2 linked regions of the Homo sapiens genome follow. Each later gene encodes a partner of the first gene's protein in a complex. Each region holds a gene or a part of one and is shown on either strand. Other genes may lie near its edges.

The links.
Region 2: BAG3 (region 1) and HSPB8 share a complex: the UniProt entries of both Homo sapiens proteins name them as parts of the chaperone-assisted selective autophagy (CASA) complex.

Annotation. Positions count from the first base shown.
Region 1 is NC_000010.11:119,645,669-119,654,777, forward strand, and holds the start of BAG3 (BAG family molecular chaperone regulator 3), read left to right. Parts: upstream 1-5,711; 5' UTR 5,712-6,007; coding exon 6,008-6,187; intron 6,188-9,109. UniProt on the Homo sapiens protein: Co-chaperone and adapter protein that connects different classes of molecular chaperones including heat shock proteins 70 (HSP70s), e.g. HSPA1A/HSP70 or HSPA8/HSC70, and small heat shock proteins (sHSPs), e.g. HSPB8.
Region 2 is NC_000012.12:119,181,608-119,189,894, forward strand, and holds part of HSPB8 (heat shock protein beta-8), read left to right. Parts: exon of another isoform or gene 1-595; intron 596-1,266; exon of another isoform or gene 1,267-1,676; intron 1,677-2,319; exon of another isoform or gene 2,320-2,488; intron 2,489-5,417; coding exon 5,418-5,481; intron 5,482-8,287. UniProt on the Homo sapiens protein: Involved in the chaperone-assisted selective autophagy (CASA), a crucial process for protein quality control, particularly in mechanical strained cells and tissues such as muscle. Displays temperature-dependent chaperone activity.

The sequences.
Region 1 (9,109 bases):
CCATTCTCCTGCCTCAGCCTCTCGAGTAGCTGGGACTACAGGCGACGGCCACCACGCCCAGCTAATTTTTTTTTTTTTTTGTATTTTTTTAGTAGAGACGGGGTTTCACTGTGTTAGCCAGGATGGTCTCGATCTTCTGACCTCATGATCCACCTGCCTCAGCCTCCCAAAGTGCTAGGATTACAGGTGTGAGCCACCGTGCCTGGCCAACTGTACTTATTCTTTTATATCTAACAGCTACATAGGACAAGGCTTAACAAAGAGTTACTAGCACAAAGCAAGGAGGCTTGAAGGAAGTTTAGTCTTTAAAAGAAACTATTATTTTTAACATTTATGATTTATTCTTTAACAAGAAGGGAAGCTTCGAAGAGGAAACTTTTTACTTTCTGCAGAGCACCTATTGGGTTGGTGCAAAAGTAATCACAGTTTTTGCCATAATAGAAGGGACACATGACTCAGACCAGGAGGATGAAGAAGAGAGATGCCACAGGTAATACCTGATGATGAAGGGGGGTCAGCCAGGCAAAGAGAGCGGGAGGCCATTGGGTGTTGGAGAGAAGGGCTCTCCAGGTGGAGGAAGCAGGGTGGGCAGAGGCAAGGGCAGGCTGTGTCAGTGCCTGCATGATATGGTGCAGCAAGGCCAGCCAGAGTGCACACCAGGCTGAGGGGAGGAAGGTCTTGTGTACACCAAGCCAAGGAGTGTGGAGTCAACAGAGAGGCATTAAAGAATTCTAGGCAGAGAAGGGGCAAGGCCTGTTTTGTGCTTGAAAGATTGCTCTGGCTACCATGTGGGCAACGAATTGGAGATGAACAAGATTAGAGGCTGGTTTACGTGACCAACTGCTTACGCACACACACAGACACACACACATACACACATACACACACACACACACAAAGATTAGAGTCTGGGAGATCCATCAGGAGGCCGTGCCAAGATCCAGATGACAGGCAAAGGTAACCTGGACGGGTTGGTGGCACTAAAGACAGACAGGAGTTCACAATCAAGGAATATCTAGGAAGTGGAATCCACAGATTTAAGGATAATTAAATGGGCCAGGCACGGTGGCTCACATCTGTAATCTCAGCATTTTGGGAGGCCAAGGCAGGAGGATCACCTGAGGTCAAGAGTTCAAGACCAGCCTGGCCAACATGGTGAAACCCTGTCTCTACTAAAAATACAAAAATTAGCTGGGCATGGTGGCGGGTGCCTATAATCCCAGCTACTCGGTAGGCTGAGGCAGGAGAATCGCCTGAGCCAGGGAGGCGGAAGTTGCAGTGAGCCGAGATCACGCCACTGCACTCCAGCCTGGGTGACAGAGCAAGTCTCAAAAAAAAAGGATAATTAAATGGTGAGGGGCAAAAGAAATTTAGGGTTATGCTTAAGCTTCTGATCTGGGCAGATGAACTCCAGGAGGCCTAAAGAGGGAGTGTCTGAGGGCCTGGAGAAAAGAAAAAGCCACCGAGGACAGACATGATGCTCAGTATTCAACGTGGCTCAAAGCAGCTTCTTCCAGCCAGCTCTCCAAGACTTGTGTCTCTGTTTTAGACAAACCCTGCGGAAGTCCCTAGCGGAGGATAACTCTTCTGCGGTGAGCAGGTCTATGCACACCTACCCTCAAAGGCTGAGGAAACTGAGAAGCTGAAGAAAGAGGTGGACAAATCCAGTTTCTCAGAGAGAAACACTTAATAGGGACTTACAAACACAAGCCATGTCCTGGATGGCTGCAAGACAAGATGGCGGGTCCCTGCACTGTTACCCTGAAGTCCCAGGGCTTGTATACCACAGGGAATTCGCCACAGGCAGGATTTATAGTAAGTATGTGTTTACAGTAACACCAACGTTATTTTGACCGAAGGGTAAGTATGTGAAAATAGAAATCTTAGAGGCATTCCTGGAACGGGTTCATCAGAAACGAACATGGCAGATGAGCATCCAGGATGGAGCTGCTTTAGCCTCCAGAGCAACTGTCAGAAGCAGCTATGTTAATCCCAGAGTAACCTGCTTCCTCCCTGCTGCTTCTTTCAGGGGAAAAATGGCCAACACCACTTTCAGTATTTGTTTGTTTATTGAGACAGAGTCTTCCTCTGTTGCGCAGGCTGAAGTGCAGTGGCGTGATCTCAGCTCACTGCAAACTCCGCTCCCCGGGTTCCAGCGATTCTCCTGCCTCAGCCTCCCAAGTACCTGGGATTACAGGCACCCACCATCATGCCCGACTAATTTTTGTATTTTTAGTAGAGACGGGGTTTCACTATGTTGGCCAGGCTGGTCTCAAACTCCTGACCTCAAGTGATCCCCCCCACCTCTGCCTCCCAAAGTGCTGGGATTACAGGCATGAACCACCACACCCAGCCTCTGTGTTTATTTAAACTGTAGTTACTTAAACTGTAGTGGAAAGCAAATTGAGCAAGGAAGAAGATAGAAATAAAATTTCACTCTGGATTCAATCTTCGATAAACATCAACATTTATTGAATATGGACTCTGGGTTCAGGGCTGCAGACATAAGGAAGCATAAGGCAGACACTGACTAGTGAATTTGGGGGTCTAGTTCCTTCAACAGTAATATTTCCTATGGGAAACTAGTGCACTGACATTCGGGTTTATACACCTGTCTCTAACATGTTTGGTGACCTGCATCAGTCCCTGGGGCCTGATCATCACTGGAGTTACTGGACTCCAAAGCGGATAAGCATACTTTTACAAGTGAGAATCATTCCATTGGAAATGATAGGCAGGCCTCTCTGGCATTTTCTCCAGAAGGAGTAAGCTGAGGGCAGGAAGGGGCAGAGGTATTGACTGGGGTTCGAGGATATTCTCTGATTCCGAATTGAAAACTAGGCCCAATATTAGTTCAAAGCGTTTCTGGGGAAGGGAATGAGTCAGTATGTCTAAAGATCTAAAATGTCACCTCCCAAACATTCTCTCTTTCTGGAACACAGTCTCTCTTTCCCAGGGGAATTGGGGTGCTCATTGACGTTTGTTAAATAAAAGTTATAAGAGGTCACTGTTTTGGACTAAGCTCCTGCATTTGGCCTTAACAAACCCGACGAAAAATCAGAAAGGAGTCACTCATGCTAAAGTTCCACATCACCAAACCAAAACCAAGTTGTTATCTGACTTTCTGAGAAATCAGGAGAGGTGATAGTCTAATTTCCCAAACAGGCTACTTTCGAATGAGGGGTGAGGGTTGGGGAGTGACAGGAGGTGGCTGGGGGCACCAACTCCGTGCAGTCGAAAATCCCTGCAAAGCTGGGCGAGGTGGCTCATGCTTGTAATCCCAGCACTTTGGGAGACGGAGACGAGTGGATCACTTGAGACCAGGAGTTTGAGACCAGCCTGGCCAACATGGCAAAACCCTGTCTCTACTAAAAATACAAAAATTAGCCAGGCATGGTGGTGCACACCTGTAATCCCAGCTACTCAAGAGGCTGAGGCAGGACAATCGCTTGAACCCAGGAGGCAGAGGTTACAGTGAGCTGAGATTGCCCCACTGCACTCCAGTCTGGGAGAGAGAGCAAGAACCTGTCTCAAAAAAATAAATAAATAAAATAAATAAAATAAGAAAAGAAAGGAAAAAAGAAAATCCCTGCATACTTTTTTGTTTGTTTGTTTTTGAACTGGAGTCTGGCTCTGTCGCCCAGGCTGGAGTGCAGTGGCATGATCTTGGCTCACTGCAACCTCCGCCTCCTGGGTTCAAGCAGTTCTGCCTCGGCCTCCCGAGTAGCTGGATTACAGGCATGTGCCACACGTCCAGCTAATTTTTGTATTTTTAGTAGAGTTGGGGTTTCACCATGTTGGCCAGGCTGGTCTCAAATTTCTGATCTCAAGTGATCCGCCGCTTGGCCTCCCAAAGTGCTGGGATTACAGGCGTGAGCCACCATGCCCCGCCCCTGCATACTTTGAATCTCCCAAAACTACCAATAGCCTACTCTTGACGGAAAGCCTTGCCAATAACATGAACAGTCAATTAACACATATGTTGTATATGTATTATATGTATTCGTGCAATAAAGTAAGCTAGAGAAAAGAACATGTTAAGAAAATCATAAGGAAGAGATTTTACATTTACATAAGGAAGAGTAGTACACTTACTACTCATTTAGTGGACGTGATCATCATAAACGTCATCATCCTCATTATCTTCACGTGGAGGCTGAGGAGGGGAAGGAAGAGGAAGGGTTGATTCTCCTGTCAAGGGGTGGCAGAGACAGAAGAGGTGGAGGAGGTGGAAGGGGAGACTGGAGAGGCAAGCACATCGGTGTAACTTTTATTGAAAAAAAATCCATGTACAAGTGGACCTGCTCAATTCAAACCCATGTTAAGGGTCAACTGTACAGTAATCTGAAGTATGTAACCTGATGTTACATTTCTCTCAATCATTTCTCTCTTTCTTTCTCTCTCTTTCTTTTAAAGAGATAGGGTCTTGCTCTGTCGCTTAGGTTGGCATGAAGAGCAAAATCATAGCTCATGGCAGCTTCAAACTCCTGGGCTCAAATGAGCCTCCCACCTCAGCCTCCTGAGTAGCTGGGACTACAGGCATAAGCCACTGCACCTGGCTTATTTTTTGTTTATGCAGAGATGGGGGTCTTACTGTGTTGTCCAGGCTGGTCTCAAACTCCTGGACTCAAGAGGTCCTCCAGTCTTGACTTTCCAAAGTGCTGGCATTATAGGCATGAGCCATGGTGGCAAGCCCTCATCAGTTATTTTTCTATGATTCTGTCTCTCTGTCCCCTCCTTACAAGGAAAGTAATTTTGAAACAACCAATCCAGTCTTGGTTCTTTGTTTCTGCTTTCTTCAGCCCTTCTCTGTCTATAAAACCAACCTCTTCTGCTCAGCTCATGGGAGCACTTATTCTAATTTAATGGAGATGTTGCCCAATTTCTAGAATCACAAATAAGATCTTTAACAATAAAAGTTAAAAAATGAAAATCAACAACAACAACAACAAAAAAGATCTTTAAATGTGTTGTAATTTTCTCCTTTGACAGGTTACAAGTGCAATTGAATAAACCAAACAAAAAATGTCATGGTTATTCGGTCTTTACTTCCCAAATCAGGGTCAAGATATAAGATAGCAAGAACCAATCTCTACCATAAAAAAGATCCAGACCCAAGAAAATGTGATTTATCTTTAAAGCTGCAACGAAACTTTCTTTTTAGTCTAGGAGACTAAAAGCCATCAGTTGATACAATCTCTTTTTTTCTTGAAGTTTCCAAAGGAAGGCAGGTGAGTTTGCACTGACTTCCATTTTCTCCCTGGCTTCCTTCCGGTGTCAGATGAGAGTCCCCGCGCTCCTCCCGGACAGCCCTCAGGGTCCTCGGCTATCATATATGGGGGAGGGGGTGGAGGTGGGCGAGATGGTTTTGTTTGTACAGGAAGGACGGGCGGCAGGCACGGGGAGCACGGGCTCCGGCCCCGGGAACACTCACTCGGCGCAAAGGAGAGGGAGAGAGCGACTATGAAAGCCGAAACCCGCCCGGGGCGCACGGAGGACGGCCCCAGTCCAGCTCGTCCGGCTTCCCACCCGCAGGCGGACCCCGAAGCCGCGCCCGCGCCCGCCCGCGGCGACTCCGGCCCGGGCACGCGCACGAGTCGGAAGGGGGAGGGGCGGGAGGAGGTGGGGGAGGGGCGAGCGGGCCGAGGCCCCGCCCCCGCTCCTCTGCCCCGCCCGCCGCGATTATAGCCGATGACTCAGGGCGGAGCTCCGCATCCAACCCCGGGCCGCGGCCAACTTCTCTGGACTGGACCAGAAGTTTCTAGCCGGCCAGTTGCTACCTCCCTTTATCTCCTCCTTCCCCTCTGGCAGCGAGGAGGCTATTTCCAGACACTTCCACCCCTCTCTGGCCACGTCACCCCCGCCTTTAATTCATAAAGGTGCCCGGCGCCGGCTTCCCGGACACGTCGGCGGCGGAGAGGGGCCCACGGCGGCGGCCCGGCCAGAGACTCGGCGCCCGGAGCCAGCGCCCCGCACCCGCGCCCCAGCGGGCAGACCCCAACCCAGCATGAGCGCCGCCACCCACTCGCCCATGATGCAGGTGGCGTCCGGCAACGGTGACCGCGACCCTTTGCCCCCCGGATGGGAGATCAAGATCGACCCGCAGACCGGCTGGCCCTTCTTCGTGGACCACAACAGCCGCACCACTACGTGGAACGACCCGCGCGTGCCCTCTGAGGGCCCCAAGGTGAGCCGGGCCCGCGGCCCGCCCTGGTCGGTGGCGCCACCTCGACGGCAGGCGGCGGGGAGTGGGCTGGGCCGGGGGGACGCGAGGCGGCGGGGCCCGGGGGTCGGCGAAGGCCCCTCGCGGGCGGACACCGGCTCCGCGCCCCGCCACACACTCCCGCTGCGCCCGGACGAGTCCCCGCTCCGGACCCGCCCTTGACAGGCGTCGGGGCGAAAGGAGGCCCCGGGATTCGGTGGCCCGGGAAGCGACCCCGCAGTGGCTCCGGTGCCGTCCACGGCTCGACTCCAGGGCGGAAGGCCGGGTGTCCAGCGCTGGCCTCGCGCTCTAGGGCTGGGAGAGGGGCGGCCGGCCTGGTCAGCTCCGGAGGCCCCGGCCCACCGTGGCCCCTGCTGCCCGCTCGGCCTCCGGGCCCGGGACCCGCGGCGCACCCTGCTGACCGCGGACTCGAGGGGGACACTCGCAAGCTTGGATGGTGGTTTTGGGGGGAATTTTACCGCTCAAGTTCTCCAACTTGGTTGAGGGGTATCTTGGCTACTGTCCCATGTTAGGCACCCAATGACTCTGGAGGCTGGTGTCAAAACATTCATATATATATGTGTGTGTGTGTATTTTAAATTAAAATTGTATTATTGTTTGAAAGTGCTTTCAATATGAACGTATCCTAGTATGATTTGTAAAATAAAAAACAGGGTGTGCTTCTCCCCAGCAGTTTCTAGAGATCTAGACTAGAGATCTGAGACTGTCTTACAGTTGGCCATTGCCTTACCACATTGCCTCACACTGGAGAGAAAGAGAATGATACGTGTATATTTATAATGGCATTCGCTTCCTGCCTTGTTATGGTATTAAAATACTTAGGATTTGTTACCAGTACACAAATAACTGACTAATGATACTCTTGTGAATACAGCAGAAGTATGTCTCATTTACATACATGCAAGGATATATACTTCTTAATCCCCAAGAGCATGAAATTTGAAAATGTAAATTTGGAATGAGTGTGTTAATTTTCAAAAATCAGAGTTAGTTATACTATTCTTTCAATTTTTTATAAATTTGAGCTTTCAGGATAAAAAGTTTTTAAAATAAATATGTTATACTTAAAGCTGAATTGTTAACGCCGTCTGGGCAAGATAAAAGCAGCAAAGAGCTGGTAAATTATTTTGAAGATTTAAAAACTCACCAAATTAAAACTGCTGTGTAACCCATTGTTTTAGAAGAAAGACCTGTATTATTTCCCTTCATCTTTATGCACTTTTTGTTTTAACAATATTGATAAAACTCCGGTGCCCAGCAGTGAGACCGTGTACAGGCAGCAGTTTACATTTACGAGAGATTAGTTGTATATTTATTCTTGAAAATTAGTACAAGAGGCTGTAATTAGCTGGGATGGGCACAGTTACATATACCTTTTTGTGTGTCTGTTCCACCCATTTTTGGGTGAAACTGACACTCATTTCAAACCACCTTTCTTAGGAGTCTGCGTGGATGTACATGATCTTTAGTGTGGTTTACAACTATTATTTTGAAGCCTTCTTCCTGTAGACATAGGGATAGTGGTATCTGTTGGCAGCCTTTGTTGTGAGTGAAGATCAAGTTTGAACATAAACATTCCCAGCACTTTGTTCTCAGCATGAAACTTACCCAGCAAGTTGAGATCTTCCTGTACCCACCTGGTGCATGGGTTAGGCTGTGATTTCATAAACCTTATTAAAAGAAAAAAAGCAGGTTTAGTTACCATTATTCTTGTCAGCAAATACAAAGAACTACTAAATCAGAAGTCTGATGCTGGGAAGATTTATTTGAAAATTTCACGGTCAAAATTTTAAAGTTGAAATGTCCTTGAAGATCTCTTATGTTAGGCTTCTTTATTTTCTGAAACCCAGAGAGTTCAGGTGTGACTTTGAAGGTCATCCAGCTAGTACCAACAACAGGGAGAGAACTAGTGTCAGGAAAGTCCTAATAAGAGGCAGTGTGTCTCTTCAGAAGTTGGAAGTGAGTGTTTTGGGAAACTGAGGCATGCAGGCTAGAATACTTGATTATTTTTGTGCCCTCCTGGCCACCAAGTTATTGGGTCACTGACCTCTGTGCTGAGGTTGCTTGGATTTTGATGATGGGACTGATGAACTCAAGAAAAGAGTTCCCTTTACCAAGTGAATGACTTGAGACTTGTCAGCATGGCACCAAAACTTAAGGAGAAAACTAACATTCAGCCCATGAGCTGTTTGTGCTTCATTGCTTTCAATCCTGTGCTTTGACACACACAATATCAGGTTGCACTTGTGTGAGTTACACCTTACTGGAGACTAAATGTAGTGGAAAATCCTTGAATATCATTTTGTATTTGAAATTGGCTTCTCAATGCATAATGAGAAAAAGGCCCTTGCAGAAAACAAAGGGCGATTTTGGAGGAGCTGAGCTGAGGCCCGTCTGAGCATCATCATCTTCAAGAGGAAATGCTGTCAATCAGTAAAAAGCTGTTCATTGAGCATGAGGAGCTCAAGAGACGACCTCTCTTTTGGGGGAGGACTCAGCTTCAGGATGTTTAAAATTTAATCACGTTAGTAAGAAAATGGAAAGAAAAGACTAGACCTTTGTATTTTATTTCGTCTTCTACTGCCGTCTTGCAGTTGATCTTCCGCCTTCTCCTGAAGTAGTTAGGACAACTCCCTGTTTTCACAGAGGGGCAGAGCGAAAGCAAGTATCTTCTGTCATTGCTGAAGCAGGACGGCTCCCGGCAAAGATGCTGGGCTTCATCCAGCCCCATTCTAAGCAGCTGGGCCTCCCCACCTGCAGTCTTCCTGGATTTTGATTTTCTGCACACTTGGGCTTCCCACTAATTTGGCAAGTTCATACCAGTCCAGGCCCTTTCCTGGCAGAGGATGGCATTCAGTGCTGGTGCAGCCACTCCTCCAGGCTCCT
Region 2 (8,287 bases), on another chromosome or scaffold:
AGGAATTAGTATTATTATTGTCGTCGTTATTGTTATAGTGTCAGGCATCCAGGAAGGCCCCAATAAATAATGAATAATAGATGCTCTTTGAAACCTGGGTTCAGATCCCAGCACTGCTGTTCACTAGCATGGCGGATGTGGACGAGAAAGTCTTCATCCCTCTGAGCCTCATTTCTCCTATTTGCAGAATGGAGACCATAATAATATCTGTCCTGTAAGGGTGTAGGAAAGATTAAACATATGCAGACTATCTATGATAATATATGCGGAGTGTCTATAAAATGGAGCTAATAATAGTGCTTGCCTGGCACTCTGTAAACAGACCGATTATCACCATTCCTTCTGTCCTTGTTTTAATTAGGGTCTTAGATGCTTCTAGCCCAAGTCCAAGGGTCGACTCCACCCTGTGGTCCCTCTAGGAGACCCTCTGTCCAGCCTGGAGGGTTTTTCACCATCCTCTTTTGTAGGTGCTTCATAACAGGTGGGGTCTGGCAGCTCCATGTTGAGATCTCAGCTAAGTATCTTACTAATCCAGAGGCTTTGGGTGAGTCATGCAGTCTCAATTTCCACGTCTGTAAAATGGGGTCATTGGGAGCTTAAATAAGACAAAGACAAAGCTTTTCAGACATGCAATTAGTGACATCGGCTAGACAAAATCCAAATTCCCTGAGAGTCCATACAAGGGCTTTCATAAAAGGGGTTTAAAAATAAAATTGATATCAGGAGCTCTATTTAAGAAGCAACTTTCGGGCCGGGTGCGGTGGCTCATGCCTGTAATCCCAGCATTTTGGGAGGCCAAGGCGGGAGGATCGCTTAAGGTCAGGAGTCTGAGACCAGTCTGGTCAACATGGCGAAACCCCGTTCTACTAAAAATACAAAAATTAGCCGGGTGTGGTGGTGAGCGCCTGTAATCCCAGCTACTCAGGAGTCTGAGGCAGGAGAATCGCTTGAACCTGGGAGGTGGAGGTTGCAGTGAGCTGAGACCGTGCCACTGCATTCCAGCCTGGGCAACAAGAAAGAAATTCTGTCTCAAAAAAAATAAAAAATAAAAATAAATAAAAAGCAATTTTCAAGGGAAGTTGGAAGTCAGATCCAGTTTCCCACCCTATACCACAAAATGACAAATCCGTTCCTCCACAAGCACGTGCTAAAGGCCTACATGTGGTGGCTCAGTGGTTCCTCACAAGGACCTCCTAGGAAGTGTGGGTAGGTTTGTTAACCCCATTATACAGATAAGGAAGCCGAGGCCCAGAGAAAGTAACTCACCTGAGATTACCCACTTCTCCCTGGCAGTGTCTGACATTCAATGTCAGGCCTCTCTGGCTGGTTCTGAGTCAGGATGGCTGGATCTACTTCTGGCGGTGTGGCCCTGAGCAAATCCCACAGCCTCTGGAGCCTCAGTTTTACTGTTGGTCTTATGAAGAGGTAGACAAGATCAGAATTTACCAATGTACTTCAAGCTGTTACTAGGCATCTAGAAACAGGAGCAGGAGAGTTCAAGGTCTTGTATGGTGCCAGTAAAAACAAAATTATAAACAGGTCTTCTCACTGCAGGACTTATCAGAGCCTTTAAGTCACTAATGTAGTTTATGAATCTCTAAGAGGCAGCCCTATCTTATCTGACCACGTATGAGTGTCTCATTCAAGGAAGTGTTTGGAAAATGCTGGACTAGACAATTTCCAGCAAGCCTCAGATTCCCCTACCCCCATCCTGCAACCACCAGCCAAGAAATGTTCCCTTCATGGGCCACTGGGCCAGACCCTGGCTAAGATAGAGACTGGAAAGCCCCAAGGCCTTATTTCCACCCCTTCTCCTTAGTCCCAGGGACTCTGCCTTCCCTGGAAACAGCACTTTCTTTCTTTAGCTGGGCCAATAGTGTTCCACCTACATTTCTCTGAGGCATGTTGAAAAAAGCATGTCTGCAAGGGGTTTCTGACTTCTCCTAGCCTCTGGATGTATTTCTAAAAATCATAATAATTACTTTTTTCAGTTTACAAAAATAAAATGTCTTCATGATAAAATATGTAGTTAGGAAAGCAAAATAAGAAATTAAAAATCACTCATAATCCTTAAGCTGCCCCAATCTAAGTAGGCAAATGATAAGCAAATTGAGTTTCAAGATGATCCTCCTAGCAACACTCTCTTTAAATGAGGTTAACCCCACCTCCAGGCCCCTCTTTTGGAAATCTTGGAGCTTTCCCTGCTCAGAGATCCTCCCTTCCCTCACCCCAATACCCTATTTTCAGAGCAGACAGAGGCACCTAGTTTCTGAGGAGCAGTCTTTTCCCCAAACATCAAAATAAACCACAAGTGTTTACCTTCACATGGTACTTTTACAACTTCCAAAGCCATTCTGTGACTCGCTTTCATTTGCTTCCTACGGTAACCCGGTAAGATAGGTGTCGTCATTCCCATTTCAGAGAAGAATAAACTGAGGCTCAGAGAAACTTAGAGATGTGCCAGGAAATGTCAGAGTAGAGACTTAAGTCCAACACCCAATATTCCAGAACCTGTCTGCCTGCTTTTGAATCTTTGCACCAGTCACTTCCAAGCTGTGTGACCTTGGATACAGCACTTAACCTCTCTGAACTTCGGGTTTCCTATCTACAAAATGACAATAATGAAAATGCCTGCTTATATTATTATTTTACTATTATTATTTAAGGTTGTTGCAAAAATTAAAGGAGTTGATACAGATAAGGTGCTTAGAACAGTGGCTGACACCAAGGAAGCGCTATATTACTTGCTATTATTATTTATATTATCAGTTTTTATTCCCAGGACACCAGCATGCAGGAGGATTCTAGGATGCAAAAGGGCTGAGTCAGAGGCACTGGCCTGTCCCCAGGGGAAGCAGGTCTCCCGGCGCCCTGGCTGTGGGGAGGGTACCAAAGAACAGACAGTGCTCTTCTGGGCACAGGCCTGTGCTAGAGCCAGGCAGTTGGTGGTCATGGAGTTGGCAGCACAAGGTAGACTCTTTAAGCGGCCACACATTCACAGGATAGCATGTTCTGGTTAGCCAGACACTCCAGTTTAAAATGAATTTCTTTTGCTGAGAGCAATTTAGGAACATAGATTAAGCCTTAGAAATTCTGGAAGTTGCATTAGTCCTCAGTTAATCCTAAAGAAGTCATAGGGCGGCCTGGTGTGAGGTTCTAGCTACAAGAATGTTCAGGGCCACGAAGTTCTCGCCAACGTTGGAAACTCTTCAGCACCCCAAAGTAGGGGATTGGTTAAATTAGCTCTTATGTATTCCTCAATAGAACACTGCAGCCATTAAAAATTATGTTGTCAAAGAATATTTGGTAATATGGAAAAGTAATTATAATGTGTTAGCAAGAGAGAAAAATAAGTTCCAAACATAATGCAGAGAACTATCCCATTTGATAGAATACTGATATACATGGATACTATGTAACATTTACACATTTCTGAGAAACATAGAAAAGTCGGAACATATAAAAGATATTATTAATAGCTTCCGTGGGGTGACAGGATTATAAGTAGTTTTGATGGCTTTTTTTTTTAATTTTTTCTTTTGTTATTGTTGTTTTTTTTAAATTTAGAGACCAGATCTCACTCTGTTGCCCAGGCTGGAGTGCAGTGGTGCATTATAGCTTACTGTAACCTCAAACTCCTGGGCTCAAGCAATCTTCCCACCTCAGCCTCCCAAATAGCTAGGACTACAGGCACACACCATCACACCTGGATAATAATAATAATAGTAATTATTATTATTATTTTGAGACAGAGTCTCACCCTTTTGCTGGGCTGGAGCGCAGTGGCGCGATCTCGCCTCACTGCAACCTCTGCCTCCCGGGTTCAAGCAATTCTCCTGCCTCAGCCTCCCAAGTAGCTGGGACTATAGGCACGTGCCACCATGTCCAGCTAATTTTTGTATTTTTAGTAGAGACGGAGTTTCACCGTGTTGGCCAGGAAGGTCTCGATCTCTTGACCTCGTGATCCACCTGCCTCGGCCTCCCAAAGTGCTGGGATTACAGGCATAAGTCACCACGCCCTGCCTATTATTATTATTATTATTATTTTTAGAAACAGTGCCTCTCTATGTTGTCCAGGCTGGTCTCAAACTCCTGGCCTCGAGTCATCCTCCTGTCTCAGTCTCCCAAAGTGCAGACATTATAAGAGTGAGCCACTATGCCCGGCCTATTTTCTGCATTTTCTAACATACACATGCACTATCTTAAAGCACAAAAAAAGCTATTAACAAAGAAATAATTAAAAGTAATTAGCTATAAGTTGTCAGTTTAAAAAAATCTGGACTGCTATATTCAACAAAGTTGTTTACATTCTAGATTTCAAGGCCCCTCAGAAGCACCTCCCTGTGTAAATGAGGGTTCTTGCCTCCAGAAGGTGGCCCCACAAATGAGGAGTGAAAAGTAACAGCCGAATGGCCCCACTGTTGTACTAATCTTGTTTGTTTAAAGAGAAACTACAGACACTCTCTCTATTAAAGAAAAAAAGAATGAGGAGAGACCGAGAGAATTAGAATGTGCTATATACATTACAAGATCAAAACCAGTTTAGGCCCAAGTCTTCTTGTAATTTCATCTTTTTCCTCCCTGAGGGGGTTGGGAAGCCCTCTCTTACCACAGGTTAAGAGGCGAGAGGTCTGGTGGAATTTCACATCCACAGTGCCCTTAGGAAAAGCTGGGTGTTTTTGGCAGATTGAAGCATTCTTTTTCCAGGCTGTGCTTTCACTACTGGGTACAGATAATGTGGCTTAAAGAGCTAATCGGGAGCTGGAACAGACAGAAATTCAAGAGCAGAGAGGCATCAGGACCTAGAACTTGGCCTAGACTCAGAGAGAGCTGATTCAAAGCTCAGAGCCACCAGGGACCTGCTGGGCGACCCTGGATCCATCACCAAGCCTCAGTTTCCATGTTGGAAACAAAGGGAGAACGACGTCTGGGCTCAGAGTTAGGAAAGCACTCTGTTAGCTATAAAGCAAGCTACATGGCAGAGTCGCCCTCAGCATGTGACCCCGCTTCAAGCCTGCCATCCAGTCTGGGATGTCAGACCCAGGGTTCTACTGGCAGGTTAGAGAAGAGGAGTCAGGTGGGAGACTTGGAAGATTTGGTACAACACATGGAAGATTTGGTACAACACAGAAGTTTCTGCGATTTCCTCAGACTAACCCTTAATTAACTACAAACCACGGTCTACGCCTCCTTTCCATCAATTATCTTATTTCACCTTCATAGCCAGCCTTGGAAGTGGACTTAGGTGGGTCTGTATGGCAGACAAGGTCCTTGAGGCTTAGATAACTAGAGTCTCTAGGGTAGGCCTAAGTCACACAGCAAGGCAGGTCCAGGGCCAGGATTTGAACCCAAGCCTCAGTCCTGAAGGATGCCCAAGGAACATAGATGCTGACACGCCACACTTTTCTTCCTTCCAGGCAAACATGAAGAGAAACAGCAAGAAGGTGGCATTGTTTCTAAGAACTTCACAAAGAAAATCCAGTAAGTAACCTGGAGTCATGGAGCTCAGGGTGGGAGTGGAGGAGGGGGCACACCTGGGACCCATGATCTGGGGTCTCTCCCTCTTGGGCATCTCTCTTTTAAGACACCTCCTTGGGGCAGGGAATTGAACCCTCACACCTAACGAGGAGAAAATATCCCAGCAGACCTGTAATAGGGTCCCAGAAGGGGGAGCACATAGATTGCATCATCTCATCTGCTCGGTGCCCTGTGAGGTGGGTATTAAAAACCCCATTTTATTTATTTATTATTTATTTATTTATCTTGAGACCGAGTCTCACTCTGTCACCCAGTCTGGAGTGCAGCGGTGTGATCCCAGCTCACTGCAACCTCCACCTCCTGGGTTCAAGCGGTCCGTGTGCCTCAGCCTCCTGAGTAGTTGGGATTACAGGCATGTGCCACCATGTCCGGCTAATTTTTTGTATTTGTTTAGTAGAGATGGGGTTTCGCCATGTTGCCCACACTGGTCTTGAACTCCTGGGCTCAAGCGATCCACCCACCTCAGCCTCTCAAAGTGCTGGGATTAGAGGCTTGAGCCACTGCACCCGGGGAACAACTCCCTTTTATAGACTAAGCATCTGAGGGTAAGCAAGACAATGACTTGTCCACAATCACACAGCCCCTACCCATGGGGCATAGCTGAGGGAGGACCCCTGTCACCATCCAGAAAGACCATCCCCTGATTCCCCAAATGCCCCAGCAGAATATCTTCCAGGCTGCTTGCTCAGCCTCTGCCCTGCCAGGAAAATGAGCACCTTCTCTAGGGCATCCACAAAAATGAAGTTGGAAAGTGTCCTGAGAACACTGCATACTACCCAGAGAGGTTTGGAGGCTGAGACACTGGGACACAGGAAGAGCTATTTTGCTGAGGGGAGTAGAAGGGATTCATGTTTAACAGGGAAAGGGAGCCTGGGGGAACCGTGAGAGCAGCCAAGGACAATCAGGCTGAGGCCATGAACCAAAGCCACCACGAGCCCCTAGCTGGCAGTACCTATAGGGAGCAGAGTTGCACAGTGTGGTCACGATGGCTGCACTTAAACAACTGCCAGGTGCTTCATACATACCTTCTCCCTAATCAGCAATCAGCGTCACTCCACTATGTGCGTTTCTGGCCCCTAAACTCTCTCTCTCTCTCTCTCTCTTTTTTTTTTTTTTTTTGAGATGGAGTCTCACTCTGTTGCCCAGGCTGGAGTGCAGTGGCACGATGTCAGCTCACTGCAACCTCTGCCTCCTGGGTTCAAGCAATTCTCCGGCCTCAATCTCCCAAGTAGCTGGGATTACAGGTGCATGCCACCATGCCTGGCTAATTTTTGTATTTTTAGTAGAGACGGGGTTTCACCATGTTTGGCCAGCCTGGTCTTGATCTCCTGACTTCAAGTGATCTGCCCGCCTCTGCCTCCCAAAGTGCTGGGATTACAGGTGTGAGCCACTGCGCCTGGCCCCTAAACTCTTTTCCAAGCCATCGTTGCATTTAGCCTTTGCAGCAAAAGTGTGCATCGGAGAGGAGACATGACCCTCCTTGCAATACAGGGAAACTAAGTCTCCCACAGGTGAAAGGACATACCCAAGGTCTTTACAGCTAGAATTTAGAAGGGCCCAGAATAGATCCCTGACCTCTGAGTTCCATGCTCAGTCCTTGGGCAAGGAATGCTGTTTCCTCATCTGTGAAAGGGATGCTGATTCCAGCCTTGCAGAGTTCCTGGCTGAAAGTGACATAAGGTCATGGCCCAGCGTAGGTCCTCATAAGTGGGAGTTCATTATTACTATTGTTATTGTTGACTCTTAACTTTTCCATCAGCCTTTGCAAAGAAATTCTGTGTGTGGAGAGATCACACTAGCTGAATTCTGAGGCTTCTTCCAGCTTGGGATTCTACATTCCTGTCTCTTCCCCCACATGTCCGTCCCTGGCCCTCCCACAGCCTCTGCAGTTCTTGGAAGCCTGTGGACACTTCCTGATAAGGCAAACGCCAAACCATTTGTTCTTCGTGTTTGCTGGCTTGCCTGGCATCTCCGTGCCCCACACCTCTCCCTGGTTTAGCAAGCAGATTAAACATTGCTGAGGGAGAGGAAGGAAGGCAGGGGGTGGGGGGAAGCTGATGTCAAGGCTCAAATGAGGTCTCAGGGTGGAGTCACAAGCAGGGCATAGCTGTAAAAGGGACTGTGTAAGAAAGAAGTGAATTAATCATCTTAAAAGGGGTGTGTGTGTGTGTGTGTGTGTGTGTGTGTGTGTGTGTGTATTTCACATGCTCCAAGGCCTTAGGGGAGATAGCTTGCTGGAAGTAACCTGATGAGAAATGCCTGAAATTGCTCCAGGCTGGTGCTCAGCTGCTGAGCTGGGCTAGTTGTTAAAATATTCAGTGGTCCCCAACCTTTTTGGCACCAGGGACCAGTTTCGTAGAAGGCAATTTTTCCATGGACTGGGGAATGAAACTGTTCCACCTCAGATCATCGGGCATTAGATTCTCATAAGAAGCATGCAACCTAGATCCCTCGCATGCACAGTTCACAACAGGGTTCAAGCTCCTATGAGAATCTAATGCCACTGCTGATCTGACAGGAGGCGGAGCTCAGGCAGTAATGCTGGCTGAACTGCTGCTCACCTCCTGATGTGAAGCCTGGTTCCTAACAGGCCACAGATGGGTGCCGGTCCATGATCCGGGGGATGGGGACCCCTGAATATTGGCTAGCTATTGCCCTGAGCCCTCCCTAGCCAACCCCAGTCACTCTGATCTTGTCCCCAGGACCCTCTAAACCTCTCCACCTTCCAACAACTAAAGGGTCCCAGGAC